Linked DNA regions of Homo sapiens. The protein of the gene in region 4 purifies or fractionates together with the protein of the main gene of each other region. This does not show direct contact. Each region holds a gene or a part of one and is shown on either strand. Other genes may lie near its edges. The genes, in order: AP2B1, AP1M1, AP1B1 and AP1S2.

What was found.
Region 1: the proteins of AP1S2 (region 4) and AP2B1 purify together in Homo sapiens (affinity purification with mass spectrometry; 4 studies listed by BioGRID and IntAct, with this or other methods). This does not show direct contact.
Region 2: the proteins of AP1S2 (region 4) and AP1M1 fractionate together in Homo sapiens (co-fractionation; 7 studies listed by BioGRID and IntAct, with this or other methods). This does not show direct contact.
Region 3: the proteins of AP1S2 (region 4) and AP1B1 purify together in Homo sapiens (affinity purification with mass spectrometry; 6 studies listed by BioGRID and IntAct, with this or other methods). This does not show direct contact.

The regions. Positions count from the first base shown.
Region 1 is NC_000017.11:35,583,218-35,590,339, reverse strand, and holds the start of AP2B1 (AP-2 complex subunit beta), read right to left. Parts: upstream 3,019-7,122; 5' UTR 2,912-3,018; exon of another isoform or gene 2,677-2,911; intron 1-2,676. UniProt on the Homo sapiens protein: Component of the adaptor protein complex 2 (AP-2). Adaptor protein complexes function in protein transport via transport vesicles in different membrane traffic pathways.
Region 2 is NC_000019.10:16,221,911-16,228,939, reverse strand, and holds part of AP1M1 (AP-1 complex subunit mu-1), read right to left. Parts: intron 2,520-7,029; coding exon 2,393-2,519; intron 1,393-2,392; coding exon 1,250-1,392; intron 804-1,249; coding exon 732-803; intron 171-731; coding exon 12-170; intron 1-11. UniProt on the Homo sapiens protein: Subunit of clathrin-associated adaptor protein complex 1 that plays a role in protein sorting in the trans-Golgi network (TGN) and endosomes.
Region 3 is NC_000022.11:29,336,571-29,343,570, forward strand, and holds part of AP1B1 (AP-1 complex subunit beta-1), read right to left. Parts: intron 5,814-7,000; coding exon 5,715-5,813; intron 5,191-5,714; coding exon 4,931-5,190; intron 4,288-4,930; coding exon 4,086-4,287; intron 3,205-4,085; coding exon 3,184-3,204; intron 2,564-3,183; coding exon 2,420-2,563; intron 1-2,419. UniProt on the Homo sapiens protein: Subunit of clathrin-associated adaptor protein complex 1 that plays a role in protein sorting in the late-Golgi/trans-Golgi network (TGN) and/or endosomes.
Region 4 is NC_000023.11:15,851,814-15,859,711, forward strand, and holds the start of AP1S2 (AP-1 complex subunit sigma-2), read right to left. Parts: upstream 3,001-7,898; 5' UTR 2,875-3,000; intron 712-2,874; coding exon 533-711; intron 1-532. UniProt on the Homo sapiens protein: Subunit of clathrin-associated adaptor protein complex 1 that plays a role in protein sorting in the late-Golgi/trans-Golgi network (TGN) and/or endosomes.

The DNA.
Region 1 (7,122 bases), on a different chromosome or scaffold from region 4:
CTCATATAATGAGTTCTCACCTCATATAATGAGAGATACACTTAATCACATGCTAGATATGGACATAGCCAGAGTCTCCAAAATACAGGATGGCAAAAACTGACGTCTTCATTAGAAGTTACAGCCGGTCGCGGTGGCTCACGCCTGTAATCCCAGCACTTTGGGAGGCGGGCGGATCACAAGGTCAGGAGATCGAGACCATCCTGGCTAACACGGTGAAACCCTGTCTCTACTAAAAATACAAAAAATTAGCCAGGCGTGTGGCGGGCGCCTGTAGTCCCAGCTACTCGGGAAGCTGAGACAGGAGAATGGTGTGAACCCAGGAGGCAGAGCTTGCAGTGAGCCGAGATCGCGCCACTGCACTCCAGCCTGGGCGAAAGAGTGAGACTCCGTCTCAAAAAAAAAAAAAAAAAAAGAAGTTACAGAAAAAGTAAACAAAATAGAGCTAAAGAAAAAAAAAATCTAATATTTGCTGAAGTGCCTCAAAAATCAAGCTGCTCCTATGGGGGGAGAAAATGTTCCTTCAGAAGAGCCAGAGAAATAAGCAAAGCCATGATGGAATTTGAACTCACACTACCTTTCTACCAGATCAAACCAGACAAGTAACGGCTGTTCTGAGGATTTACGGTATGGCCTAAGGCCACTGTTAAACAACAAAGCTGCCAGAGTCAAAGCACATAATCACTCTTACTTGCCCTCGACCAGAGTGTGATGTCACTGCATTTCGGAGAAGGCCTCCCTGCACAGGACTATATATCCAGATTTAACATAACCTAGTTTCTACCAAATATAGGTTGTCAAAGTCCCTCCTCTCCTATATCTCCCTCCAGTTCCCCAAAAGAGAAACTGAGCAGCAAAATAAGATTAATACCTTGGGTAGAATAAGGTCAGAAAAAAATTAATAGGGTCTTAATTCAAATGGCTCTCTGGGAAGCTAAATTAGTTTGTAAAGTCACTAAACCCTTCTTTTCACAAAGTGGGACTTTACAAAGCTCAGTGCTCATAGTGAAAAACTGGCCAAAGTTAACCAAATTATAAAGCAGAAATGTCATTCCAGTAATCTTTTATTATAAAGGTGAGAGGTGCCAAATTCATTTCTAATCAAATATTCAGTAATAATGCAAAGACAATAGCATCATCAGGTATTACCTTGCTCATAAGAAATTATGAGACACAAAAGCTAAAATCACCTGTGATTTCTATTTAAACATAACAGACTACAAAGTAGCTTCTTAATATTATAACGAAGCAAAGGAGTTCAAAAGTTTTACATCTAATTCTTAACCAAAATAACATTAAACTCTGGAAAACCTAAGGCTAGAAGGAAAGAAAGGACAAGAGAAAGGAGAACGTGCCCTATTTAATATATTCCTTGCTCAGCTTCGTTCAAACCTGTGCCTAAAAAGTTAGTATTTCAAAATATGGATCTTTTAAGGAAAGAAAGAATGAAAGAACTGGACTTCCTTGAGTTTCTTCATACACAGTCAGAATATTAGATTTATATTGATTTTACCACCCAGCTTTTAGTGAGGATGTTTGCATTATACATCATCCTTTCTGCTTCCTTGAAAGTTTCAACGGCTAAGATACTGCAAACAGTTCTCACCTTACCAGCACGCTTAGTCATCACTGGAATGTCTTAACACGTTTTCTTATAGAGCTGCACCTCCTTCATCTGCTGCTTTCTATTACTACTTTGTAAGTGTACCCTGAGGCTAAGCAATTGAAGTATACAAGGAAGGTAACTAATCATTTAAATTGATTCTCATTGAGACCACCTTCTTTCTTAGTCATTCTGCCTTTCTAAGCTTAATGCATTTACTTTCTTTTAAACCACAATGGTTATGATAAGTCTTTGGCAGTTTTCAAAACATTTTTTCTTCTCAAAAGTCAAGTTTGGCTGGGCGCGCTGGCTCACGCCTGTAATCACAAAACTTTAGGAGGCCGAAGCGGGAGGATCGCTTGGGCCCAGGAGTTCGAGACCAGACTGGGCTACACAGTAAGACCCTGTCACTAAAAATACAAAAATAAAATAAAATAAAAGTCAAAAGTTTAATGAAGCATCCGCGTGAGTTCAATAAAGGCCTGTCCCCCCCCACCCCACCCCTCCAATAGAAGACTACTCTTGAAAACAAGCAGCATGAACAAATGATTTGGATTCAAATGATAAGGAAATAACAGGACGTTCCAGTTTCTTTACTTTCAGCTTAATCTACAGCCTTTCCCAAACCAGACCATTACTGCAGAGCCCAGAAAAAGAAAAAAAAAAAAAAGATGCTGGGTTAAGATTTGCCCCCATTTGCTTCCCCCTCTCTTACATCGGGTCAATTCTGGAGGTTACTCTTTCCTTCCTCCAAGAGTAAGGAATGCCTCTTCTTTCCCCAGGTGGTCAAGATTCTAGCGATATGCTCCTCCATTACGGAGCAGGGAAGAGGTTGTCTCTTACCCTCAAGTTACCCGAGAGACGACGTTCGCCCATCAATGAGCAAACCTTTGAGGGAATCCCTTTTCCCTTTGGCTTGCTGGACACGTCTCAGCCTCTCAGTGAACGACGCCGAGCGGGGAAGAAAGACGGTTCCCCCCACGGCCTCCAGGCTCTATCAGCCACACCCCTGGCCTCTGGTCCCCCTAAACCCTCAATTCCGAAACACATCTTCCCCTCCTGCCCCCAACTACCTGCTGCCACACCCGAGGATTCCCTCACCGCACCACAGGCATCATGGTAGAGACCCTTTCTCCAACCTTTTCCCTCTCAATGGTCACACCCGACGGTTCCCTGCATCATCAACGGTCACGCTCTTAGGATTTCCTCGCCTCCGCCGGTCTCCGACCCAGCCTGGTGTTACCCTTCTCTCCGTCCCCGACCCCGTCAATTAGGGACACACCCTAAAGGCAACCGCCCTGAACTCACCGGAGGCGGAGGCGAAGGCGAGGGCGGGGGTGGCGGCGGGAGCCGGAGAGCACAGCCCAGGTGGTGGTGTAATGGTTTCCTGCCCGTCACGATTCTTTTCTAGGTCTAAGCCACTGCGCAAAACCCACTTTGCCAGGGACAAAGATGGTGGGCAGGAAACTCTGACGTCAGAGAACGTCGCCGCGTGACGTCATCGGGGTGCGCGGTAGACCTAGAAAGCCTGTGATCTCTTGTCGCCTTCCAGACCCAAAGATTTCCTTTGGTCCCGGCAAGCTAGCCCATCTGGGCCTCAGAGGATGTTAAGTGGCTACTCCAAAGGGATATATTTTAAAAAGCTGACAATGGATTTGTTTCCTCGCACAGAAATTCTCTGAAAAACGTAAACATAGAGATGATGAAATATCCTGTTCCTTTCTGAAAAAACAAAACCCCTCAGCTCATTTTCCTTCCAGGCTCAAGGGCGGACAATGGTGATATAGCCCAGGCCTATATACGGGCAGTGGGGCTAGAGGATAGTGCTGCACGTAAAAGAGGTTGAGGAGGCATTGGATGTGAGTTTGAATCCCTACCCTGAATGTGACTGAGACAGTTAATGTCTCATCAACCTTCTTATCTGTGAAATGAAGACAATGATAGTATCTCTCTCGGGCATGTGAAGTTTAAACCAGATAAATTAGGTAAAGTGCCTAGTATATAATAGGTGTGCTTACACAAAAGTAAGTTTCTTTCGGACACTAAGAGCTAGATTCCAGGACCTGGAACTGGAGAACAAGATTGATGATGTTAAATGAACTAGCTGTCCCTAAGGTTAATTTCAGGGTGTAAGGAAGGATGGAGAGCAAAGTGATGATTTTTCTCACATTTTGCCTATGAACTCTGTGAGTCAAAAAGTGTTTCAGTATTTTAAAACTTCATTCTTAAAAAAGTGATCAGAAGTACATTAAAATTTTGTATAACATACTCATGTATTATTATTTCCTCTGTTATTAAAATAGGGGAATAGGGGAAATTAGAAAGCCAGGTATAAGGTGAGAGAATGCAAACAGTTATGGTAAATCAGATAGCTGCATAATGTTATAGAATATTTTATGACAGAAAATTCATAAAGTGTTAAGCAAAAAAAGGACACCAAACAATACAGTATACAGTATGACTATATATGTATAGAAAAAAAAGGCTAGGATAGGCCAGGCGTGGTGGCTTACACCTGCAATCCCAGCCCTTTAGGAGGCTGAGGTGGGTGGATCACCTGATGTCGGGAGTTTGAGACCAGCCTGGCCAATGTGGTGAAACCCTGTCTCTACTGAAAAAACAAAAATTAGCTGGGGGTGGTGGCACACGCCTATAATCCCGGCTACTCAGGCGGCTGAGGCAGGAGAATGGCTTGATCCCAGGAGGTAGAGGTTGCAATGAGCCCAGATCTCGCCACTGCACTCCAGCCTGAGTAACAAAGCCAGACTCATCTCAAAAGAAAAAAAAAAAAAAAAAGCTTGGATATTCAGCAGAACGTTAAAAGTGGTTATTGCAGGATAGTGAGAGTTTTATTTTTCTTCCTAATATTTTTCTGTATTTTTCAAAGTGTTCTACAATGAACATGTATTTATTTCTATGTTGGGATGTGCCTTTTAAATCATATTGTTGAAAAATATGATACAGAAAAATGCTTTGAAATAAGAAAAAAAAAAAGATACAAAACTCTAAATCCAGAGGAGTATATATACCTATTAGTGGTTCCCTCTGGGTGCTGATTACAAATGTTATCTTCTTTATATTTGTTTTATTTTCCATTCCTTTCTCTGAAAAATGCATATATTTTAAGGAAAAATGAACCAATACTATTTTCAAAATATAGCATCAATCCGAAAGCTTTTCCAACTTCATTCTCTTCCACTTTTGGGTGAAAGTATGGACCAATCTCCCTTCTTTTCACCTTTTGGGACCATCACGGGCTCATAATCTAATGGGAGACCACTCAGGAAACTGTTGACATGATCCAGCCACACGATGATGGTGGTTTAAACAAATAACTGTTGATATTTATTATGATTTTATGTCAGTTACTCTGCTAAGTACATTTTTACATCCGCACCACCTGATAACCAAGTAGGTACTATTACTTCCTCTATTTTAAGAGATACAGAGAAGTTAAAAGGTAGAATTAAGATGGCTGGGCGCGGTGGCTCACGCCTGTAATCCCAACACTTTGGGAGGCTGAGGCGGGCAGATCACGAGGTCAGGAGATCGAGACCATCCTGGCTAACATGGTGAAACCTCATCTCTACTAAAAATACAAAAAAAAAGTAGCAGGGCGTGGTGGCGGGCGCCTATAGTCCCAGCTATTCAGGAGGCTGAGGCAGGAGAATGGCATGAACCTGGAAGGCGGAGCTTGCAGTCACACACACAGACACGCACACACACATACACACACACAAAGGTAGAATTAAGATTTGAACCCAGGAAGTCTGACACTAGGGCTGATAAGGCTTATGTTTTAGGTTAGGGCAAGGGAGGAACGGTGGTACTAGTCACTGAAAATAGGAAAATATAAGAAATGGCAGAAGTTTGGGGAAGAATAGGGAGGTGATGAGTTCATTTTATACGTTAGGTTAGAGTGAAGATCTCTACCCAAGAGGTACTTGATTATATGTGTCTGAAGATAAGGAATGATCTGGAGTTAAATTTGTGAACTGTGAGCATACAGATGATAATTCAATCTGTGGGCATGAACATTATTCATGAAGAATGTGGAGAGTGAGTGCTTGGGGTAGAAACAGATAAACCCAAGAATGCAAAGAGGACTGAGAAGGAGTAGTCAGAGAGGTAGGAGGAAAAGCAGAATAGTATATTTTAGGATGTTTTCAGAGTTTCATGAAAGTAGGGACTATACCAATCTGTTCACTCTTGCACACATGAGGCTAGCCCCATCACACACACACACACAAATTAATATATGTTGACTAAACGCATAAATAAGTGATCAACAATATTAGTTGCCATAGACAGGAGAAGGGCTAAAAAGTGTCTACAGGATTTAGTAACATGGAGGTATTTGATGTTATTGCTGAGAAATCAGTAGAGATATGAAGGCAAAAGTCATACTGCAGATGTTTGAGGATGGATTAGAAATGAGGAAATAAAAACAGGAGTTGCAGATAACTCATAAGAAAGTATGACCAAAGAAAGCAGAAATGGTATCTGAGGAAAACAGTGGCAAGGATTTTTTCTTTCTTGAGGCAGGGTGTTGCACTGTTGCCCAGGCTGGAGTGCAGTGGTGCCATTACAATTCACTGCAGCCTTGACCTCCCAGGCTCAAGCAATCCTCCTACCTAGCCTCCCAAGTAGCTGCGACTACAGGCATGTGTCACCACGCCTAGCTAATTTTCTTTTTTTGTAGAGAGGGGGTCTTGCCATGTTGCCCAGGCTGGTCTGCAACTCCTGGGCTCAAGTGATCCTCCTGCCTTGGCCTCCCCAAATGCTGGGATTATAGGCATGAGCCACCAAACTCAGCCAATTTTTTCAAGTTTAGTTCTATACTCATACATTTTCTCTACACTAACCCTTTAGCATACCATGGTTTTAATTATCTTTCTTACATATATGGCTCCAAAATCTCTTATCTCTAGCCTAGACCTATTCCCCAAATTTCATCACCAAATCGATAACTATACTGCTGGGTTAAATCATAAGGAATGGAGGAGGTTAGAAAAACCTGGTTACAGAGTTGGGCACAGCAGTTTACACCTATGATCCCAGCACTTTGGGAGGCTGAGGTGGGAGGATCACTTGAGCCCAAGAGTTTGAGGCTGTAGTGAGCCATGATCATGCCACTGCACTCCAGCCTGGGTGACAGAGTGAGACCGTCTCTAAAAAGAAAGAGAGAGAGAGAGAGAGAGAGAGAGAGAGAGAGAGAGAGAAAAAACTCGTTCAAGGTACAACTGCTAGCAGACAGAGGTAGATTTCGTAAAGATGTCATTAGAAAAATCTTCAAGAGGCTGGCCGTGGTGGCTCACGCCTGTGATCACAGCACTTTGGGAGGCCAAGGCAGGTGGATCACCTGAGGTCAGGACTTTGAGCCCAGCCTGGCCAACATGGTAAAACCCTGACTCTACTAAAAATACAAAAATTAGCCAGGCATGGTGGCACATGCCTGTAGTCTCAGGTACTAGGGAGGCTGAGGCAGGAGAATTACTTGAACCTGAGAGGAGGAGGTT
Region 2 (7,029 bases), on a different chromosome or scaffold from region 4:
AGAGTGCTCACCGGGAAGGACTTGATGGACCACACGATCTCGCTGTTCTCGGGGACCCACTTAACGCTCCCCACCGTCGTCTTGAACTTGGGTGAGTCGGCATCATTGGGCACGGGAATGTGGATCTCCACGTTGTTGGCTGTTGACCGCCGCTTGAACTGGCTTTTGGCCTGCAGGCCAGGCCAATGCGGCCCGGGGTTATGGAGGCCAAGGTGAGCTGGCCAGCCTCTCCAGGACACATGCCCCTCAGCCTGGCCCGGGGGATCCTCCCTAGCCCCGCCCCTGGCCCCACTTCTCCAGGCACTACCCACCCCTTCTCCTGCCCTCGAGACTCTCCCAAGACCTAATTTCAGGAGTTTCATCTTCATCCTCCTGTCTGCTCAGCTTCCAAGGCTCCTCATCCCTCCCTCTGCCCTGCCCTCCTAGGACAATGTCTATGTCCCAGGGCCAGGCTGCGCTGGACAGGGTCGCTGAGGGGCAGAGGTGCTCCACCTGGGGGCAACACCTCTGGGAGTGTCCTGGATGCCTGGCTACAGGCCCCTCCCCACAAGTGGCACCATCTAGGAGCAGGCCCCAGGCGGTGTCCCCTCAGTGTCAGGTCACTCCTGCATCTGAGGCCACAGTGAGGGTGCACGGATGGCAGCCCTACGGCACCCCCAGCCCTCGGTTAGGCTCCTGGGACGGGCCAGAGACACCAGAAGGCCCTCAGTGGGTGGCCTCGGCCCACGCACCTTGATCATGTACTCGATGCGGCTGTGGGAGTGCTTCTCGATCACCGACTCGATCCATATCAAAGGCTTGACCTGCCAAGGAGGGCAAAGAGGGTGCTCACACCTGGCCTTGTTTGACAAAGGCCCATTTCAGAGGGGAAACCAAGGCCCAGGGCAAGGGACCATCTGCCCAGGTGTGGGCCCAGAGCCCTGCAGGGAGCGTACAGCCAGCGTCAGGGAGGGCCAGGGCAGACAGGCCGAGGTAGCCGGGAGCTACCGGGGAGGCCTTGGGGCAAATGCAGAAAACATGACCAGGGCCTGCTCTGGGGGCTGCCTGGGAAAGGGGTGGTGGTGGCCAAAGGGGTCTGTGCCCCTCAGAAAGCTCGGAGTCCCAAGTCCTCAGACTCCATCTCTGCAGAGCCAGGCAGCTCATGGAGCGTGGGGTGGGGCTGGCCCTGGCGCCTGCCTGGGCTTCACCTCCTGGAGGTGAAGGGGAGGAGGAGTCTGCCGACAGCCCAGCCCCAGGGTGGCGCACTCACGTGGGTGTTGAGACGGTAGGACATGAGCTCGAACTCGCCGTCGGGTGGGATGAAGGAGATGGTGCGGTCATTCTCGAAGCGTGATAGCCGCACACACTGGTGGAACTTCACATCCTCCAGCTCCACGGATTTGCTTTTGCCGCCTGGGGTCAGGGGTGAGGGTAGGACAGATCTGGGCCCTCCGGGTCACTATCTCAGCAGTACTCCTACCACCTGCAACCCACCCCGGCAGAGCAGGGCCCCCAGTCCACGCACTGAGAGCAGCCTGGGCCACAAACACCAAGGGGGCTGGGTCCCAAGACAACTGCCCCATCACTCCTCACACCCCTGGGGTCCCCAGGGGCAGGGCTGGTGGGTCTGGTTCATGCTGAGTCCCCAGCGGCCATCCCAGGGCCCAGCCAGGGGACCTGCTCAGGACACGTTCACTGAATGATTGATCAGTGGACTTGGCTGGGGGATGGCTCGGGGCTCCCCAAGGGCTCAGGCCCTGGCATCCACGGGGTCCTGGGTCCTACCTTGGTTTGCCACCTCACTGAGGGCTATGTGGGTGGGGCCCTGCCCAGCCCCAGGCGGGGAGCTGCCCTGATAGACTGATGCCCGAGAAGCCCTCACCGGGCTAGGAACGGGGGCATGCCCAGCCACTGCACCCTCTTCCAGTGGCCTGTGACAGCTGAGTGGGAGGCACAGTTCACAAAACCAGGCCCTGGGCCCCTCTGCCCCCGCCCTGCTGTGGGAAGTGTTAGAGGCCAGGCGGCGGGAGCGAGAATCACCATGCGTGGCCTTCACACGGCCCACACCTAGGGCCCAAGGTGAGGGGAGAAACCTGGCCTGGGAGGGAGAGAGCAAGGCCTTAGCCTAGGCCCCAGTGCCCCAGGCAGAGCAGGGCAGGGTGCAGGACCTGGCGTGTGAGGCCGGGTGACGGGGGCCTCCCAGCTGGACTGGAGGATCTTCACTCCCCTGCACCTTCTATGTCCAGGGAAGGATGAATACTCTACACAGCTGTCTCAAGCAGTGTGAAGTGCTGCTCAACCAAGTGCTTGAAACCAGCTCGTTCCTCCGCCTGGCCCAACCCTGCCCTAGGCTGTAATGTGTGTGCCTGGTGAGGCCATCCTCATGGGCAGGGCCCTTGGCAAGGGTACTCACGGCCCGTGTTGTCAAAGAGGACCTTGTCGTTGAGGCCCAGGCGCAGCTCGGGCATGCCCGAGAGGAAGACTCGCATCTTGATGGAGCCCACGATCTCGCTGCGCAGGACATTGCCGTTGGCGCTGACCTGGGGGTGGCGGTGTGGGCGTGAGGGGAGGTCCCCAACTCACCAGCCACTGCCTCCTACCACATCATGTGACCCTCTGGCCACCCCACTCTCAACGCCCTTCTCACCTCCAAGCCCATCCCTCTCCTGGGCATCCCCTGAGCTGGGAGAGTCCCAGCTGTGGCTAAGGTCTACCCCTAACCCACACCAACCCACGCCTGGCTGAGGGTCCCCAGGCTCACCCCTCCAGCCTTCATGCCGAGGCCCTGTGGACATGAGGTGGACACTGTGGGTCCTGCCCTCTAGGCCTCAGGCCACACTGGGACCTGATGATGCGTGCCTGGAGCCCCCTCTGAGGGTTCTCTATCAGGTACCAGTCCCTCCCTCCCAGGAGCCCCCTGAATGCTCCGGGCCGGCCCGGCAGCTGGTCCCCACGCTGAGTCAGCTTTGAGAGTCCATGAGCTCGGCTGGACCTGGGCCAGGACCCTGTGGTCCCTGCTCAGCCGATGGGCTGGGCTGGGCTGGGGTCTCTTGAACCAGGCCAGACTTGCTTTTCTTGAAAGCTGTTTCTCCTCTTGGCCTCCCAGGGAGGCCACTGGCCCCTCACCCCCCAGGGCTTATGAGAGATGGTGCTTCCTGAGTCCTGACCCCTTCTTGCTTCTCAGGGCCACCCTGAAGTGTGATAACACTTGATCCAAAATAATCAACTTAAATCCAGTCACAGTGGCTAACACTGACAGCATTTCCACTGCGCCAGGCATTGCTCCACACACGCCTCGACAACCTCTGGGGCAGGGACTGTGGGGAGATGACCTGAGGGGCTGTAACCCACTGCGCATGCCGAGATGCATCTGAAAGTGCAACTGAAAATCCACACCGGGGCGACGGTCCTGCACCCCCTAGCCTGTCCTGCGTGAGCCAAGATGCTGGAGCATCTCTTCTTGCATCCATTTTAGAGGTGAGGAAACAGGCACAGATCAGAGGCCCCGTGCTGAGGGCACAGAGTGACTGGCAGAAGAATCGCTGGGGCTGCAGCCCTGGCCACCACTGCACACTGCTATGCTGCACGAGGCCATGCTCACACCAGCAAGTGGGCCAAAGGCCACCGACTTGGATACCTGGGCCCAGATGCTGGCTCCAGCCAGGCTAACATGTGCAGGGCCTGCATTTCCTGTCTGCAGAGTGGCAGGAGAGTCTGTGCAGTCTTATGCATGATGTCCAAAAAGCACTGGGTAGACAAACAAAAGCCCCTCACCAGCTTGCCGCCTCTGAGGGAATTGGGAAAACTGAGGTGCCAAGCAAATGACAGCCCTGGGAGGGGCAGGGAACCGGACATGGCCCCAAGGGCTCCGGTTCTGTCACCTTCCCCAGCCTCACCTCCTCGTGCTGTCCTGTCCTCATCTCGCAAGCGGCTCCCTGATCCCATGGTGCACAACAGCTTCCCTGCGTCTGCCTGCTTGTCTCTCTCTCTCTCTCCCTGCTGGGGGAAGCCACGTGGGGCTGCGCGCTGCCGTGTCCAGCACCAGAAACAGCGTGTGTGGCAGGAGGTGCTCAGTGGGCAAGCGGAGGCTCAGGAGCTCGGGACCCTCACTGGCCGGGGCTCCAGGAGCCCGAGCATTGGGATTTTGCCTGCCTCTTTCTCGGAGGGCCCTCCACTCCACTGTGACGGCCCCTAATTCCCCTTGGGTGCTGCCTCCCCCTCAGGGAGTTGGGACTGGCCCTGGCAGCCAGCTGTAACTGAACACATGAGGTCGTGAATGCCGCGAGAGCAGGCCCAGGGAGTGGAGCTGAAAAGCTGCCCAGCCCACGAGGCTGATCTCGGCCCTGCGGGCAGCAATCAGAACCTTCTCAGCTGAGGTGTGACCAGCCACGCAGAGCCGGTGCCCTTCCCAGGGCGGGTGCTGAAGGGATGCTTGCTCAGGGCCCGGCTGTGTAAGTACCAGGCTGCACTCAGATGATCGCATCTGGAGGCAAATGTTGACCCAGCCACCAGCTCTGCAAGCCACTTAGGAAGGTGGCATCCTGACAGCTGCCCTTGTGCTGACCTGTTTGGAGGAGTGGGATCCTTCCGGGCGGAGCCACATGCAGCAGCGCACTGTGGCGGGGACCCCCGCAGCCCTAGCGCTTTCCTGCTCGACTCTCTCTAAGCTGCCCCCTGGGACTTGCCTTTGCACCCCACAGCACCCAGATGGACCCTGTTTTCGGCTCAATAAACAATCAGACAAGAGTCCCCAGGGGAGAGGGGAATGTGGTTAGCGAGGCCACTGTCCCGTCCCGGAAAGTAAGAAAGCGAAGAGGTCTGCACGGAGTGCGCGAGACAGTCTTTCTGGGCAGCACTCTCCTTGGCAATTCCATGTCTGCAGCCTCAGTCCTCCAGAAATCCTGGCCCAGGTCACGGAGACACCCAAGTGCACACGTCTGGGGCTGAGCAAGCGTGCTCAATGCTGCACTGCCAGTGGCCGTCAGAAACGGGACCTGAGTGACCTGCATGACTGGATTGGCTGAGCCCATACAGTCCACCCACACCGCAGGGATGAGGCCAGCGTGAACACAAAAGAAAGCAAGCGGCTGGTGAGGCAGGTCGGCTGGCGCCCCTTCCCCTGCCACTGACTACAGCTCTGAAACCTGGGCAGGAGGCTTGGCAGCTGCCGGAAGACTGAAGACAGCAGCAGGTGGACCAGGGAAGAGCCACGAATGCAGAGTGTTCCCACCGCCCCCCACGAGAAAGTGCAGCAGCAATCTGGAAGCAGAAGTGTGCACCACAGAGCACACGAGAGCTCAGCAGAGCCTCCAGGCCTGGCTCTGGGGCCAGAAGAGGAACTCCTGACTCTCCTGGAAAACACAGAAGCCCCCCATCTCCCCTGTTCCTCATGCCCCAGGCCCTGTGGTGCCAGCTACTGTTCCGAGGGGGTGGGGCAACCGTTGTCCTTTTCTCTCTCTGTCCTCTCTCCATGTGGGCTGGGAAGTGGGCCCAATGGCAGACGTGTACAACAGTAAACCGCAAGGAATCAGAAAAGTACCAGGTAGACAGCACAGAGCCAGAAGCTCAGGAAAGTCACCCCATGAAGTGGTTTATGTCTCCAGAACTCTCTAGAATCGAGCATCTGTGAATCCTGTGCATATACCATAGTTTGACTTACGAAAGAGTTTGAGAACTGAACTAACCACTCGGGTCCCAGAATGACCACTGGGCAGTGCACGCCCAGGAGATCTGACCAGGAAATGGCACGGGGGCTTTAAAAACTGACGTGATGCTCATGGCCTACAGGTTGGGGATTGGAACTTGTGGCCTGAAAGTAAGATTGGCTGTTGGCTAAAACAAAAATATCAATATTTCCCATATAGCTTAAATAAGACCTAGAGTATCACCACATAATGCTCAAAAAGTCCAGGATGCAATCCAAAATTACTCAGCATACAAACAACCACGAAAATGTCAACTTGCCTGGAAAACCCAATCAACCACTGTCAACACTTCACAGATGTTGGGATTATCTGATGAAGACTTTAAACAGCTATTTTTAAAATTGCAAATGCTTGCAACAAATGTTAAAATAGAAAGTCTCAGCAAAGAAACAGATGATAAAGAAGAATCAACCAGGAGTTCGAGACTAGCCTGGGCAACACAGCAAGTCCTGGTCTCTACAAAATAAAAAATAAAAAAAAATTAGCCAGGCATGGTGGTGCGTGCCTGTGGTCTCAGCTACTCAGCACACTCAGATGGGAAGATCACTTGAACACACGAGGTTGAGGCTGCAGTGAGCTATAACTGCACCACTATACTCCAGCCTGGGCAACAGAGTAAGACCCTGTCTCAAAACAAAAACAAAAACAAAAACAAACAAAAAGAGAAGAATCAAATGGAAAATTTTTAAAAATATAGTAACTGAAATAAACAACTTGCTCAATGGACTTAATAGCAGAATGGAGGCCAGGTACAGTGGCTCATGCCTGTAATCCCAGCACTTTGGGAGGCTGAGGTGGGAAGATCACTTGCCCCAGGAGTTCTAGATCAGCCAGGGCAACACAGAGAGACCCTCATCTCTACAAAAATTTTTTTTTAAAAATTAGCCAGGCTTGGTGGTGCACACCTGTAGTCCCAGCTACTCAGGAGGCTGAAGCAGAAGGATCGCTTGAGCCCAGGAGGTTGGGGCTACAGTGAGCCATGCTTGCTCCATGGCTCTCCAGCCTGGATGACAGAGTGGGAACCTATCTCAAAAAAAAAAAAAATAATAATAATAATAGTAATAATAATAATAACAGAATGGAGATAAACAGGAAAGGGCCAAAGGACCTGTGAACTTAAAGGCAGTTCAATGTAAATTATCCAATCTAACAGAGAGAAGAAAAGATAGAATAAAATAAGCAGCCTCAGGGACACATGATATAATAACCAAAGGTCTTTCATGTCACTGGAGTCCTGAAGGAAGAGTAAAATGACAAAAACATATCTGAGGGCTGGGTGCGGTGGCTCATGCCTGTAATCCCAGCACTTTGGGAGGCTGAGGCAGGTGGATCACCTGAGGTTGGG
Region 3 (7,000 bases), on a different chromosome or scaffold from region 4:
GCAGGTGGATCATCTGAGGTCACGAGTTCAAGACTAGCCTGGCCAACATAGTGAAATCCTGTCTTTACTAAAAATACAAATAATTAGCTAGGCATGGTGGCAGGTGCCTGTAATCCCAGCTACTTCGGGAGGCTGAGGCAGAAGAATCGCTTGAACCCCGGAGACACAGGTTGCAGTGAGCTGAGATCGCACCATTGCACTCCAGCCTGTGTGACAAGAGCAAAACTCTGTCTCAAAAAAAAAAAAAAAAAAAGATGAACACACAAGCCTAGTGCCAGCTTGCCAAAGGCCAGCTCCAGGCTTATTTTTCCTGGCAGCTCTGCAGTGCCTGGCAAGGGCTGGCACCCACAGGGTTACAGGAGTCTTTGCTGTTCTCTGTCCCTTAGTCCTGCTTTGTATGCCTGTGATATTGGGCTTCTGGTGAGTACGAGTTGGCCTCATGCCTTGGTGCAGCTAATCCAGGTAGTAAGTCAACTGCACATGCTGTACGTTATGCCGCGATTCTACGTTCCCGTGGCCCTGCTGGCCCTGACACCCCACGCATGAAGGCAGGTGCACAGGTGGTTCTCACGCTCTGTGGGGACCATCATATAGGGGTCTGGAGCAGAGGCTTTAGTGTCACTTGCTTTCACTTCCAGACTCTGTCACCAGCTATGTGACCTTAGGCAAAAGCACTAGGATTTCTCAACCACGAAATAGGAGGAAGAGCCACAAAGGGCTGCTGGGAGGAGGACGTGCTGGCGGTGGCTGTGGAATGCTGTGCTGTCCCTACAAGGAAGTGTGCGGCTACTAGTGTCCGAGTTGCTGTCTGCTGTGGGCCTCTCAGTGCCCAGACCCTGCCAGGGGCTCCAGTCACCACCACTGCAGGTGCAGCTGGCATATGGTGGGGAAAGCCAGCTCAGGGGGTGGGGAGGTGCTGGCTCATGGCTCCCTAGTCATGACAGAGCTGTCACTGCCCCTGACCGCCAACTGTATCCTGCTTTGGGGTGGGGACCTCAGAAGAGAGAGGGGAGCTCTGGCAAACACAACTTCTGATCTGAGTGTGATGAGGGGATCAGGCCTGGTTGGTCCCCTCTGGCAGCTTCCTTGACACTGACAACATGGCCCACACTGAGCTCTCCTCAGTGCCAGGCCCGCATGTCCTCACATCCCAAACTCAACTCTCCTTCCCTCAGCCCCGGCTCCTCCCTCCCAGGGAGCTCTCAAGTCTGGCCGCTGTTTCCACCCACAAGAGCCCCCGTGGTCCAGCTGCCCCAGCACTCCTCCTCCCTGCCACGGAATCCCCCGGGGCCGGTGCTTCTGCCCCACCCCTTCCCTGCAGACGCAGCCATCTTTCTCAAGTGCAAATCAGACTGGTTCATCTCTTTGCTTAAAACTTTCCAATGGCTCCGGCTGTGCCAGGATCAAGAAGAAACGCTCAGCCTGGCCCGCCAGCCTTGCCAGCTTCCTCCTTCACTGATCCCTAGTCTAGCCAGGAGTCTTGGGGGTGTGCCCTAGGTGGCATAGTGGGCATCTGTGGGCATCTTCAGGTGGCATAACATGTAGTGGGCTGGAGTCAGGGATGCTGGACATCCTACCATGGGGACAACCACCCCACAACAAGCAACTGTCCTGCATCCTTCCAGTATTTTCTGCATGGTTTCAACATATCCTGAGACTTCCAGGAACACAATTCTCAGGAAAATCGAGGGAAGCCTGTTCTTTATCTTACTCCAAACCTTACTGGGAGTCAGTGACCACTTCAGAAACAAATGGCACCACTGGCCAAACCATTCACGGGGTCCAGGCTACAAACACCCAGACTGTGGTTGCCACAGTCACAGTGACTTTGCCCTGCAGCAAACACCTGGCAACTTCATGTCTTCTGGGGTGAGCGGGCAGGCGTGCCCAGACGTTTATAACATTGATACATACACTTGTATTCTCTCCCTTTTATGTCTCCTCCATGCAGTGAAAGCATCTGAGTATTTTTGGAATGCTATGTGTAGGTAGGTTACACAGCCCACCAATTGCATTTAAGGAGAGGAATGGTGACAATGTAAAATGTCTATGATGACTAAGGGGTGCTGAGTCTGATGGCACTGAGAACTACTGCTCCCACCTGACAGGCCTCTGCTGATTCCCTCACAAAGGCCGTGGTCTCCCTTCCCTCCAGGCCTTACCACAGACTGTTCCCTTGGTCTGGAGCCCCTATCCGCTTTTGTTCAGCTACTGAGGTCCTGCGACTCCTCTGGAAAGCCTTCCTAGGTACCCACCAAGCTTGACTTAGCTCCTCTTCCTCGGTGCCCCTGTGGCCCCCAGCTTCCCTCATCACTGCTGGCCTGAGCCAATTCCACAGCCGAGGCCATTTAAAGGAGCCCACATGCCAGTCTCCATAACTTCTCTCTGCTCCCGCCAAGACAGAAGACAAGTGACTTACTGCTTTGGGGGCCACATATGATCCTGACAGGGTGCCCACGCCACTGGTCAGGTCAAAGAGGTCACTCAGGCCACTGCCGATGGGTGCTCCAAGATTGGCTGGTACTGCTGCTGTTGGAGGTGCCACGAAGTTGGTGCCCCCAATCTGGAAAGGGAGGGAAAGAGTCAGAGGTGGGCGTCAAGAGGCAAAGACATCAGGGTCTGGGAATGAGTAGAGCCACCTGGCTCTTTAGAAGACACTGGGGGCAGGGGGCAGGACAGCCTCCATATCAACTCTAAATTACAGAAACAAGACAGAGAGAGGTGGGTGGAGAAGAGAGGCTGAGCCCTCCCGTGCCCTGCAAGCCTTGAGCCTTAGGAGTAACCTCTGGGAAAGGGCTGGGGACACTCCCAAATTGACGCTCAGCCTATGGATAAAAGGAGGTCCCAAGACACACGGCTGGGTGGAGACATGCTACGCAGATGGGTGCTCTCCCTCCAGGACATCAGAGAAGGGTTGTGGGACTGAGGGCTGGCAATCCCCGCGATGACAAGGCGACGTGTCATGGGGTGGTGAGGACTGGGCAAGAATCCATGGCTATGGGGCCCAGTGGCAGCCGGATGCCAGGTGGTCAAGACAGAGGCTGCCAGGATGCTGGACCAAGGCAGGGGCTCAGCAGGTGGAGGCTGCTGTGACATCACCCGCCCCCGCCCCTTGGGATGCTGGGCCAGCGCTTTCGGGAGGAGCAAGGACGAAGGCTTGGTGACGCAAGGGTTGAACCATACCCCTTCAGGCTCATCCCCCATCTCCAAGCAGAAGCAGGCAGGTGAAGAGAACAGGCAGCCACATGCAGAGAGAAAAAGCCAGGAAGGAAGACAGAGAAACAAGAGAGAGAAGGGAAAGAGGGAGATTAGTCAACGGTAGCTCCATCCGAGAGGAGTGTGGTGTGAGGTCTGGCGAGAGGCCCAGACCCTGTCTCTATGAAAGGCACTACCCCACACCTTTACCCCAACACCTGTCCTGCACCACAGCCCTTCCTGCCTCACCCTAGCAGCACTGATCACCAGTGTCCTGCCCCCGTGCTGCCACCGTGCGGACCTGAGCCGAGCACAGCCAAATGAAGAGGTTTAGGCGCCCCCACACATGGTCCTGCCAGTTGCCTGAGGAAGCCCCAGGGAGATACCCAAGTCAGTCTCACCACTCCCCTCCCTACTGTCTTCCCACTCCCCTCTCTCCCCGGCCTCCCATGCCCTCTCAAATAGGCCTGGATGGGCTGCTATTCCCAGCTGGCGCTGCATAAGGGTAAGTGGACACAAGTCTGATTCCTCAAAGCCAGGAACACCCTAGCCTTACAGGGCAAAGGTGACTGTGATGCCAGGATCAGGGCAAGGGCTAGGATGCGCCTCCCTGCCCAGGGTCTCCTGGGACTCGAAGGTTCAACAAGGGAGTGGAATCCTGTCTGCCTCTCAGGGGCTGTGCGACCTCGGAGGGAAGGCTGCCTGGCCTCTCTAAACCTTGGTTTTCTCATCATAAGTAGGGAGCTACACAATCACCTCCAAGGGTAAATGGTAAGGACTCTATATAATGTACCTGAGGCACTCAGCTGGTGCCTGGCATGGAGGGGCATTCAGTGACTGCTCCTCTGAGGATCATTATCAACATCATCCAGAGGGGGCCCACAACATACCAGGCTGTCAAGGCCACCGCCAAGAAGGTCCACAGCTCCCATCTGCACCGAGGAGGTGGCCAGGGGTGGGCCGCTCACTGGGGGGCCGAGGTCCAGGTTGAGGAGGTCACCCAGCAGGTCGCCCTGGGCGGGGATGACATCTGGCTGCTCCCCAGGAGGTGCTCCAGTAGGGGCTGTCTCAGGGCTCTCTGCGCTCTCACTCCTGCCGGGACACAGAAGTAGGGTGGAGGCATCAGGATGTCTCAGGAAGGTCAAAGAGACCCCAGCCTCCAGGCAGAGCTGTCCCCCAGGACAGGCACTGAGTCTCCTCACTGTCCCCGACAGGGCTGTCCACACGGCCCCACTTCTTCCCCATTCCCATTCCCACAGCAGGTCCATCTTTCAGGTCCTCCGTGAGGATGAGTGAAGGGAGAGGGCCGCCTGCTTCTAGCCCTCAGCCCATGCTAAGAAGAAAACTGGATGCCAGTGCCCTAGGACGGTGCCACCAGGCCACACCAACCACCTGGGAACAACAGAGGAGGAGGCGCAGACAGGGATCTGGAATGAGACAGAACTGGTCTGAGTCCCAGCTCTGCTAGCTGTGAGATCCTGGACCAGTCCCTCAAGCTCTCCTTGTCTCTTGTTCCCACCTGAAGAATGGGGACATTTGCTCTCAGCACTGTCGTTAGGCTGGAATGAGGTCATCTAGCAAATACCTTGTGTACAATAAATAGCTGATAAAAGGTTGTCAGTTTTCCTCAGACTCAGGTCTTGCTGGGGGACAACACGCCAGGCCTGAGTGCCTGTGCTGCTAAACTGGGGAAGCAGAGTGTGAAGGCGCAGGCCGACTGGCCAGTCTCACTCACGAGGCCGTGCGAGGTGGCAGGCTCTTGTGCACGACGCCCCGGCCCCCCTCCACAAAGGCACTGGGAGGCTTATGGTAGACGGAAGCCAGCGTGCCGATGTAGCAGATAAGCTCGTCTAACAGTGTGGGCTCGATGAGGTCCGTCTCTTCAGAGATGAGTGGCTTCTCAGCCAACACCACCTCCTTGGCTGCCACCGGGTCCGTGGACAGCAGGCGCCAGTAGATGTAGCCACGGTCCCGCAGGTCTGGGTTATCTGAGTCCTTGTGGGGGTGAGGAGAAGCCCATGAAACTCAGAGTAGCCAGGTGAGAAGGGAGGAGACCTTCCTGCAGCCATGAGCCAGGTGCGGCACAGGGGTGGCCAATGGGGACAGCAGTCCTGAGTGCTCCCATGAGCCTGCCCCTATACCACCTACAGGGCCATGCCCTGGCCCCGGGCTCATTCCCCATGGTACTCTACTCCAGCCTGGCCATGCCTGTCTCTACTCCCAACCGCCCTCTGTGGCCTGCCCTTCCTGCCCCCAACACACACCCTCAGGTTTCCATGGGCCCTCCTCCTCTGTCTAGTTTGTCTCAACTTCACTACTTGACCTCACTGCACTTTGTGTTGTGTTCTAAGCACCCTGAAGGCAGGGAGCTTGGGTAACTCTGGGGCTGGAAGCCAGTCCCACCCACAAGATACCTGTCTTAGGAGCGGGCCTGGCTTCCAGGTCTAGTTCCTGGGACAAAAGTTCCCCTGCTTGAGTGAGGGCTATGCTGGGCACAGCGGGGAGGTTGGGGCACCCACCTGAGTGGCCAAACTGAGGACCTGCTGCACCAGCTCCTGGGTCTCTGTTGGCTTCTTTAGAAAGAGTTTCACAATGGCTGTCAGCAGCTGCAGCTGGACCTGCAGGGAACAGCGGTGACGAGGAGGAAGTGTGGGCCTCACATGGGGATAGAGGGAGAACAAAAAGGCTTGAAGAGGAATAGGGTGTTCAAAGTCCCTGGAAGCCAAGCATAGCTATTCTAGGTTTGGGGCTGTCACGGCACACAGGCAAAGGGCTGCCACAAGTGTTGGTGCCGCTGAGCAGCCAGACCTCGGCATCACTCACTCAGGAAGGAGCTGAATACTGGACTATTTGGCAAACCCAAGTAGGCCAGGGGCCGCTGCCCAGCCCTAGGGTTTTAGAAACCTGTTGGAGCTCTAGAATTCACAGAACTATGAGAAGCTCACATGTGTGGCTGGAGTGCTTCTTATCAGGACCATCTGTCAACAAGTGGCGACAGTCCCATGGAGGCCCAGGGGACTGGGGCAGCAGGGCCCACAGAGCCTGCCGTCAAGGACCTGTGCTTCTACCAGAGGGTTGGAACTATTCCTGGTGGCCCTCCACCGGCCCCTGCCACATGCCTGGACATACCCAAAGCTGCCCTCATCCTGGCCAACACCTCCTCACCCTTCAGATCTCATGCCAACCCCACCTCCAGACCCCCCATGCTTCTGCAGCCTCTTCCACCCCGTCACAGCGCCACCAGTTGCTGGCTATCCTGTACAGTGAGCCCCCTGTGGGCTGGAGTGATGTCTGTCTTGCTTACTGTCGTGTCACTAATTACTGCCCAATCTAGTGCCTGGTGTATAGCAGGCACTTAAGAAATACTTGCTGACTGAAGAAACATCTATGCGAGAACAAGTCTCTGCACATAATCCTTCCTTAGTCACGGTCTCATTTTTGCTAGTCCTAGGACAAGGGGGCAGCCTGATGCTCCCGGAGTCAGGGGCAGTGGGAGCCCATAGGCTGTGCCAGGGACAGGTCTGCAGCAGGAGGGCAGGAGTGGCAGTGCAGGAAGCCCAGCAGCAGCCGTGCTGACGGCATCTCTGGCACCTGCCCAGCAGGAGGGCACTTGTGCAGGGAAGGCTGACAGAGGCAGGCAGAATGGAGGGCACGTGGTCCTCCAATTCTGGGGTGAACCAGAGTCTGCAATTTGGTTACATGGGGGCCAGCAGCAGATGAGCAGTAGGCTGGCTGTTTCCAAGGCAGGAGGCAGCCCAGCATCTGGCTTCCAGACTCTAGCCCTGCCTGGGCAGCCAATGGGAAG
Region 4 (7,898 bases):
ACTACTTACAAACACATCTCATGTATACACAAAGTTTTTAAAACATCTATGTGATTGAAATAGTCTACATAGTCAAGGTATTTACACGTGAGTAAGATTCTAAAAATCAGATAAAAGGCATGTCAAATATTAGTCATTACTTTATAGATTTTCGGGGAAAAAGAATTAGACTCTATCTGTACTTGTCTCAATTCAGAGAATTACTCACACAATTTAAAATACTGACCCTACTTTCCCCTGCAATGAAATGAATTCATTAAACTCTTCTATAAAGATGATTAAGCATGAATAATCATTTATGCCTTTAATTATATAACTAGTTTTCAAAGGATTTCCCTGCCTTTATCATTTCAGCCTCAGTAATTATCAATCAAAACACTAGTTATTTTAAAAACACAAAGCTTTACCTTAAACCTATTTCATCTAAATCTTTATTAATCGTTATTTATAAATGTCATCACTGAAGTCTGCAATTTCCTAAATGACCTAACATTTGATTCTATTTCACCTTTCTGACAAACAAAAATTATACCTTTTGTAAACAATCTTCAGATCTCGCCACTCAAGGAAGCTGCACATTTTAGGTTTCCGTGCTAAAACGGTCTGAACAAGTTCTCTTGTGATCTTTTTCTTCTCTTTGTCTGATAGTGGGACATACCATTTTTGCAGTCGAAGCTTTCCCTGACGACTAAAAAGCAACATAAACTGCATCTGTTAAGATAAATAAAATCAAGATTACATGTAATACTTTGAATCAATAAAGTTAAGATTATGTGTTTCACAGAGAAGTTTTGGGGGATGGGGCATTTACATGACAAATGATTAGTAGCCATCAATATTTCTATGCCAATTAAAATAGCAAGAAATTCTTTTGGACAGATCTTCCTCTAGATGCAAACCTTCCAATCCCACCTTGTTCCACATTAAGTTTGAAGGGGAGTGTGCAGGAGAAAAAAGAAAAATGGGTAATAAGCTGAAGTGAAATTTTTGAAGAAAAATAAAGATCACTCTTTCAATTTAAGAAACTATTTTCTACCTGTGCTATACATTGCGCACTCTCTATATGCATCAAAAGAGAATGGTAGACATCATCTGGTTTGGGTACTTTTGAAAGAAACAGAAGACCTGCTATTTTTCATCCTGAGGCCGTTCTAGTTCCAGGGTGAATTACTTGCAGACAGTAGCTTATGTCTTGGAATGTTCTCCTCAGTTTATGATGGCATATTTTAAGCAAAACAGAATGATCCAAAATATTAACTGAAAAATCCCATAAATACAAATTTTCATTAATAAAAAAGTATGTTTTCATCTGACTTTTAAAGCATTCCAACTTAAATATGTACAAAATCTAGAACTGAGTTAATGTATTATGAAAAAGAAAACAAACGTTTAAAAGGCCACAATAAGATTTACACTTATTAAATAAGATTCAGCATTGAAACATTACATGAAATACTTCATTTAAAATAAAAAATAGTATCTACAGATGGAATGGATGCTGAATTCTAGTGTGTTTTATACTTAAACTAATTTGTATGTATTTATTTGTGATCTGCAAATGTGTTGATTAGTCTGCATGTTTCATTTTTAACGCCAAGCTTTTTGTAATCCAATTGGTCATCTCAACTGCAAACAGAAGTATTGTTTCTACAAAGGTAATTTAAAGGCAGAATTCACATAGGTATCCTTTTTTCTTTTAATCACTGTTAAGTTCCTTTAACAGCGTTACTGCAAATAAGATTCAAGCATGATTCTCAAGATTCACCACACCATCTTGAATTTGAACACGGGGAGGGGAAATTTACAGAACCAATGTAGAATAAAAATGGGCCCTAAATTTCGGTAAGAAATTATCGTCGCTTTTTGTAACCACCCAAAAAGGTATCAACAAGATATCTAGAAATGTATGACGTGGCAATTCAACTTTAGTAAAGTTAAAATGGTCTTATTACCTCACTTAAAATGCGTCAGGGGAACAAAATATAAGGACATTATTAGGTGATACCAAAGTGCCTCCCGTGCAAGTCCTGAAGATAGCGGCATTCGAAGGGGGCAGGAAGTGAAGCATCAACTGGGCATTTACTGCAAACCCGTTACCAGAACTTGGAAAAGAATGGACCTCGTATTCCTAGATCTTGGTGACCAGAAAGGGTGAGGGTTTGCCTGCGAAGAGTATGGGCTCAAGGCTGTCTGGAGCAGGGTCCTGTATCCGCCCTACCACTTTGCAGGACGAAAAAACAATGTATTCTCCTTAAAATAAATTATGTCCTAACATGGGACGAAACCCGGTTGCAAAGCACGAGTATTCCTTCCCTCGTGTTAAAAACCAACGCTTTGATTTTGCCGCAAATCACAGGGCACCACAATTCCTCGAGACTGGCATTAAAAACAATGGGCTCAGCCGCGGCGCGGGCTCGGGGCCAGCGTTCCTCGGGTCCGGCCGTCGCCGGTGCCTCCCCCCCACTCCCGTGGCCACACTCCATCACTGACCAAGCCCGGGAGAGGTGACAGGCAAGGAGCGGAGCAGACAATGGCATCCGCCGCCGCGCAGGGGGCGCCAAGAGTCCTCGGCCGCCACCGCCCCCGGCCCCTCCCGAAAGCGCCCCGCAAAACTTGAGGCGATTCCCGAACCACAGGTGCCGCGAGGCTGTCGCGGAGCCCGGGACTGGCCCCCACATCCCCGGGCGCGGCGCGGAGTGGTGCGGAGGGCGCGGACACGGAGAGAAGTGAGTTGCGGGCGCGGCGACCCAGTGGCGGGCCGGGCAGGCTCGGGGTGGGGTCGTCGGGGCGCGCGCGGGGTGGCGGGGGGCGCGCCCAGTCCTCCCTCCCCCTCTCCCCCATCCCCGGCGCCCCCTTTCGCCCCCAGGGACTTACGGCGGCCGCGGGCCGCGGGCGCGGCGGAGCTTGGCCGGCGGCGGCGGCGGCGGCGAAGGGGAAGCCCCTGTCGCCGTGCTGAGGAAGAGAAGCCGTGGTGCTGTGGGGAGGACACCCGGCTGGCATAGGGCAGGCTTAGGCGGAGAGGGGAGGGCAAGCTGACAGACCCCGCCCCGGGGGCCGGACGAGGGAGGAGCCGGGGCTGCGGCGAGCTGAGGGGCGGGCTAGGCGACGCGCGGGAAGCGGCTCAGCGGTCGCCAGCGGCACCGGAGGCAGCGCGGGTAACCGCTGAGTCCAAGGCAGCCGATTGGAGGTTTCTTCGCTGAGGGGAGGTGCGAACCGGAAGCCGGGCCACGTGACCCGGAAGCGGCGTTTGCCGGGCCCGAGCGCCCGCGCGCCCGCGCGCTCTTGCAGGTGCCTCCGGGACGCGCGCGGGCGGCTGTCCTGCTTGTTTAATGATAGGAGGACGGGATTCTGCAGCGTCCTTAGCCTAGCGGGTGGTGCGGGGCAGGGAAGTTCCGGACAGCGAAGAGCCACGTTCGAGCTCTAATGATTCTCTGTGTCCCCAGAGAGGAAGTGTGAAGTGTGACGGCTGACGAGGAGGGTGGGAGGAGACGAGGGAGTGCTGCAACTCTGGAAAAACAAGTCAGCTCTTCTGTGGAGCTCGTCACGCATTCACGGGCCTTTTGCTATCATTCTGCCTCAAAATTGTCCGGAATCCGCCCTCTCCTTCCCATTGCACTGCTCCAGCCCTAGCCCAGACACCTTCCGCCCCGAGCTTCGCGGGAGTCTGTTCCCTGGGCTCGCCTCGCCCATCCTCGGTGCTGCGGACTGGATGAGTTACCGTCCGTTCGGCTGAAAAGCCCGGACAGCACCTCACCTTCGAGATCCCGCTTCCTTCACACTGGGTCGCCCCACCAGCCGCCTGGGTTCCAGTTTAGCACTGCCGACGACTTGCTGTGCCTGGCATGTCCTTGCTCCCAAATGTCACATCTATGAAGCCTCACCCTAAAACCCTGTAAGAGCGATTCCCTCTTTCACCCACATGCCCGTTAGCCTTTATTTAGCACACCTTAAATTGTATTCATTTTGCATCTCAATCTAGTTCACAGCCTGGTATATAACAACTAATAAATGTGAGTTGACTGATAAAGACTATAAAATGATAAATTTGTTAAGAGCTGTAATGCTGAGCGTAATGCCTGGGCATAATGGATGTTCATAATTTTCTGAATGATAGAATGGATGAATCATCTAGTCATTTACAGATAAGGAAAGGGGAGTCCCACGGGATTAGGTGACCTTCCTTGAAGAGCCACGGGTTTCCCATATCGAAATGCTATTCATTACCCGAGTCACCTAGGTTCTTACAAAGGAAGCGAGAAAATTGCTTTTGTTGGGCCATGCCCCTTTTGCAGAGGTTCCTAAGTATAGTCGCCAGAATTTTTTTAATGGCCTAAAGTAAAAAAAGAAATGCTAAAATTTTCACGAAGCTAAATGTAATCAATGTAAAGGAATCCTTTATTAGGGATTATATTCTTTTTGTGTACATTATAGTATCTATGAAACTAAGACAGTAGTTTTGGGGGCTTTTAAAAAATGCTTTTGTATGACAAAACAAAAAGAAATGTGTAATACTTCCCCTTTTCAAGCACTACTGTGCTGCTTGGAAAGTTTCCTACTAACATGTATGATTAATGTATACTGGAATATTAAAGAAAGGGGACGACACACGGCACAGAGCTGGCTTTCTGTAGTTCTTTAGGTCCCCCTCGCCCCCACCAGATTTCTCCCTACCTAGTCATGCCCCAAAGGTGCTTTCGAATGTCCCATTTCTCTCTTACTACAAGAAACAGATGCCATTAACCAGTTAAAAGATAGCTCTAATGCTACACAATGAAAACTCGCCCTCTGAATCCAAATGCTGCTTTTCTCTTTTTCTGTACAAAACACTTATATCCTGAAGGTTCCTGAGATAGCCACTTCCAAGTTTAAACTCTGATTATGCTCCTAATGTTGCTCTGAAAATGAGGACGGGAGACTTGCTGATGACATACTGGCAGTCTCCTTTCCTGCTCCTAGCCAAAAAAAGGTGGGGGTAGGGGTAGGGAGGGGAAGGAATTGTGGGAAAAATAATTAGCAGCTGAAAGCAGCTATTACATAATCTTGGCTGCTTATTAATTTAGCAGAAGGAATGGCTTATTAAATTCTAATAGCAACAGCACAACTGCAAACAACCTAGCAATTAACAGTGCAGGGCCCATTATTTTGTTAATATGTTCTCTTCTTTTGGCAAGTGTATGAGAACAAAATTTATAGAAGCAGATGGTCTTTTTCAATAGATTATAGATGGTTTATTCCCTAGTCTTAGTATTAAGTGCTAATTATGCATTCACTGTGAAAGACAAAAGAAACATGGTTGCCATCTTTGTTAGTAATTAACTGCTTGACTTTGATTCCCACAATTTCCCAATTGTAGGCTTTGTTATATACATGTTTCTTCTCACCTAGTGTCTTCTTCATCCGTCATGTCAATTGGTTATCTTTTTTAATCCTGTTTTTGTTTTCTAGATGGTCCTGATTTATTGGTGTTAATATTGATACAAGAATTATATACAAAATTCGTTTCATGAAAAACTAAAAATCAGATTTTATACTTGTTTCTTAAATTTGAAAAAAATGCTTCACTGTCATTTATGCTAAATGTAAGAGGTGAGGGGAAAATAGAAATCTTTACCTTCTAACGATAAAATTTTGAGACTTTTTATGTAATCTTTCCAAAGTTTTCAAAAATAATTTTAGTTTCCTATTAAATGTGTGATGGCCATATACTTTTATCCTCTCACTGTCTCAAAATACCATTAATTTTTTTTAAAGGGACTATTTAAAACACATACCCACGTGGAAAATAAGAGAGGGAACATTTACATGAGGATGTCGATAAGGATGTCAGGATACACTGTCAGCTCATCATTTAAACACTGATGATTTAAAGAAAAATTGTCATATATTGATATTATGGAGGAGCAGAAGTGAGGGAAGGTTGAAATAATGCTAAATCCTCATGTGCTAAAGGGAAGAAAATAGATAACATCTAAAATAAATCACGAACTAGAATTATTAGCATATTCTTTCGATACCAGGAAGTAAATCCCAGAAGCAATGGTGAATTTCTTTCCATGGACAGAATCTTGCAGTAGGATGTAATAAAGGGTATTATTACATTTTACTTAGGTTTTTTCTTAAATAATTTTTTAAAATATTGTAAGGAGGTAGATAAAAACCATTCCATTAGTTGCTAGCTCTGTATTATGGACTTATACAGAGTTCCTTTAGCCAGTCTATAGATTATTTAGAAATTATTAAATAAAAATGCCCAATAATGGAATTCAGTGCTGAAGCCTTGTAGATCACAGAAAGTGTAAAAAAGATGTTTAGAGTTTGTGAATTTGCATCTCCAAAGATAAAGTTGTTCCAGGGAGAAAAATGGCCTAAAATAATGAGGATTTGTGAACCAAATCATTTCAAAATAGATAGAGCTGTCACTGCCAAAGTCCTCAACAATGAGCTAAAGAGAAATGTGGAACATATGCTCTTTCTCGAAGCCTGTTTCCATAGCTTTGAATAAAATGCAGGAAAATTACTACTGCCCTATGAACATTAGGATAGAGCAGTGATTCTCAGCCTGGGCACTTTTGCCTCCCAGGGGACACTTGTCAGTGTCTGGAGACATTTTGGTTGTCACAACTAGGAGTAGTAGGTGATGCTGCCAGCATCTAGTGGGCAGAGACCAGGGATGCTGCCCAGCATCCTGCAACATACAAGAGAGATCCCATAGCAAAGAATGATCCAGCCCCAAATGTCACTAGTGCCAAGGTTCAGGAAGAAATCCTGGGTTAGTCACTGAAAATATTAACATGCAGTAGCATATTTTTATAGACATTTCAAGAAATGGAACAAACATTATCTTCATATAAGTTTCTCTCTCTCTCTCCCTCTCTTTCTCTCTCTCTCCTCCCTCTCCCTCTCTCTCCCTCTCTTTCTTTCTCAGAGTTGGAGCCATTATTCTTAATATCTGCTAGATAAAATCCTTAACTGCTTAAAAGACTGGAGGCATACATAAAGCAGTCAGTATTCTTTAATAGCAACTAGAATAAACTATCCAAACTGATTTTCAAAAAATGACCCCAGAATATTAGTAAAAGTTACTTAAGCACTTGAATCCATGAGATGCCTATTCCATCCATACATACATTGTAAATGTTTGTTAGGTATCTACTTTATGCTGGGGCACTCTGGAAGGTAATGAAGATATAAAGACAAATAAGATATTGACTTGGTCCTAAAGCTCCATTTCTTCTGACACAGAATTTCTAGTCTTTTAGAGACAAACCCTGGATGGTCAAAGGATAGTCATCAACCAAACGTATGAACATTTTCTTTTAGGAGACCCCTAGAGATGCTTCATAGAACCTTAGATTTCTGTAACCAACACGTTTGAAAACTATGTGCTCTCATGACCTCCCAGGGCTCTTCGCAATATTTTCGTTCGATGAATTTCTATGTCACTCTTAATTCACAGCAATATAAGAGAGAGATTCTGTATGTTTTAAACAAACGATTTCAAATAATGTCTTGATTTGATCCTTGAAGTGAAATGCTTCAACAATGATCTAACTCAACTCCAAATCGCTAAACCAGTGGTTCTAGAATATTCTTTTAGAGGACTTGTGAAAATACAGGTTGCTGGGCCTCATTCCCATAGTTTCTGATTCAGGGGGTCTGAGATGAGGCCTGAGAATTGCATTACTAACAAGTTTCCAGGTGATGCTGATGCTGCTGGTCTGGGAACCACACTTTGAGAACCATTGCTCTATACCACAAAAAGCTATGATATCCAACTAGAAAGTTGTGATATAATTTTCATGGTCTAAAGGAAACTTGAGATCTGAATATTTTTTTAATCGCTGACCTCATTAAGCCCGAGAACATTAGAAGAGTAATATTCCCAGTTATATTCACCT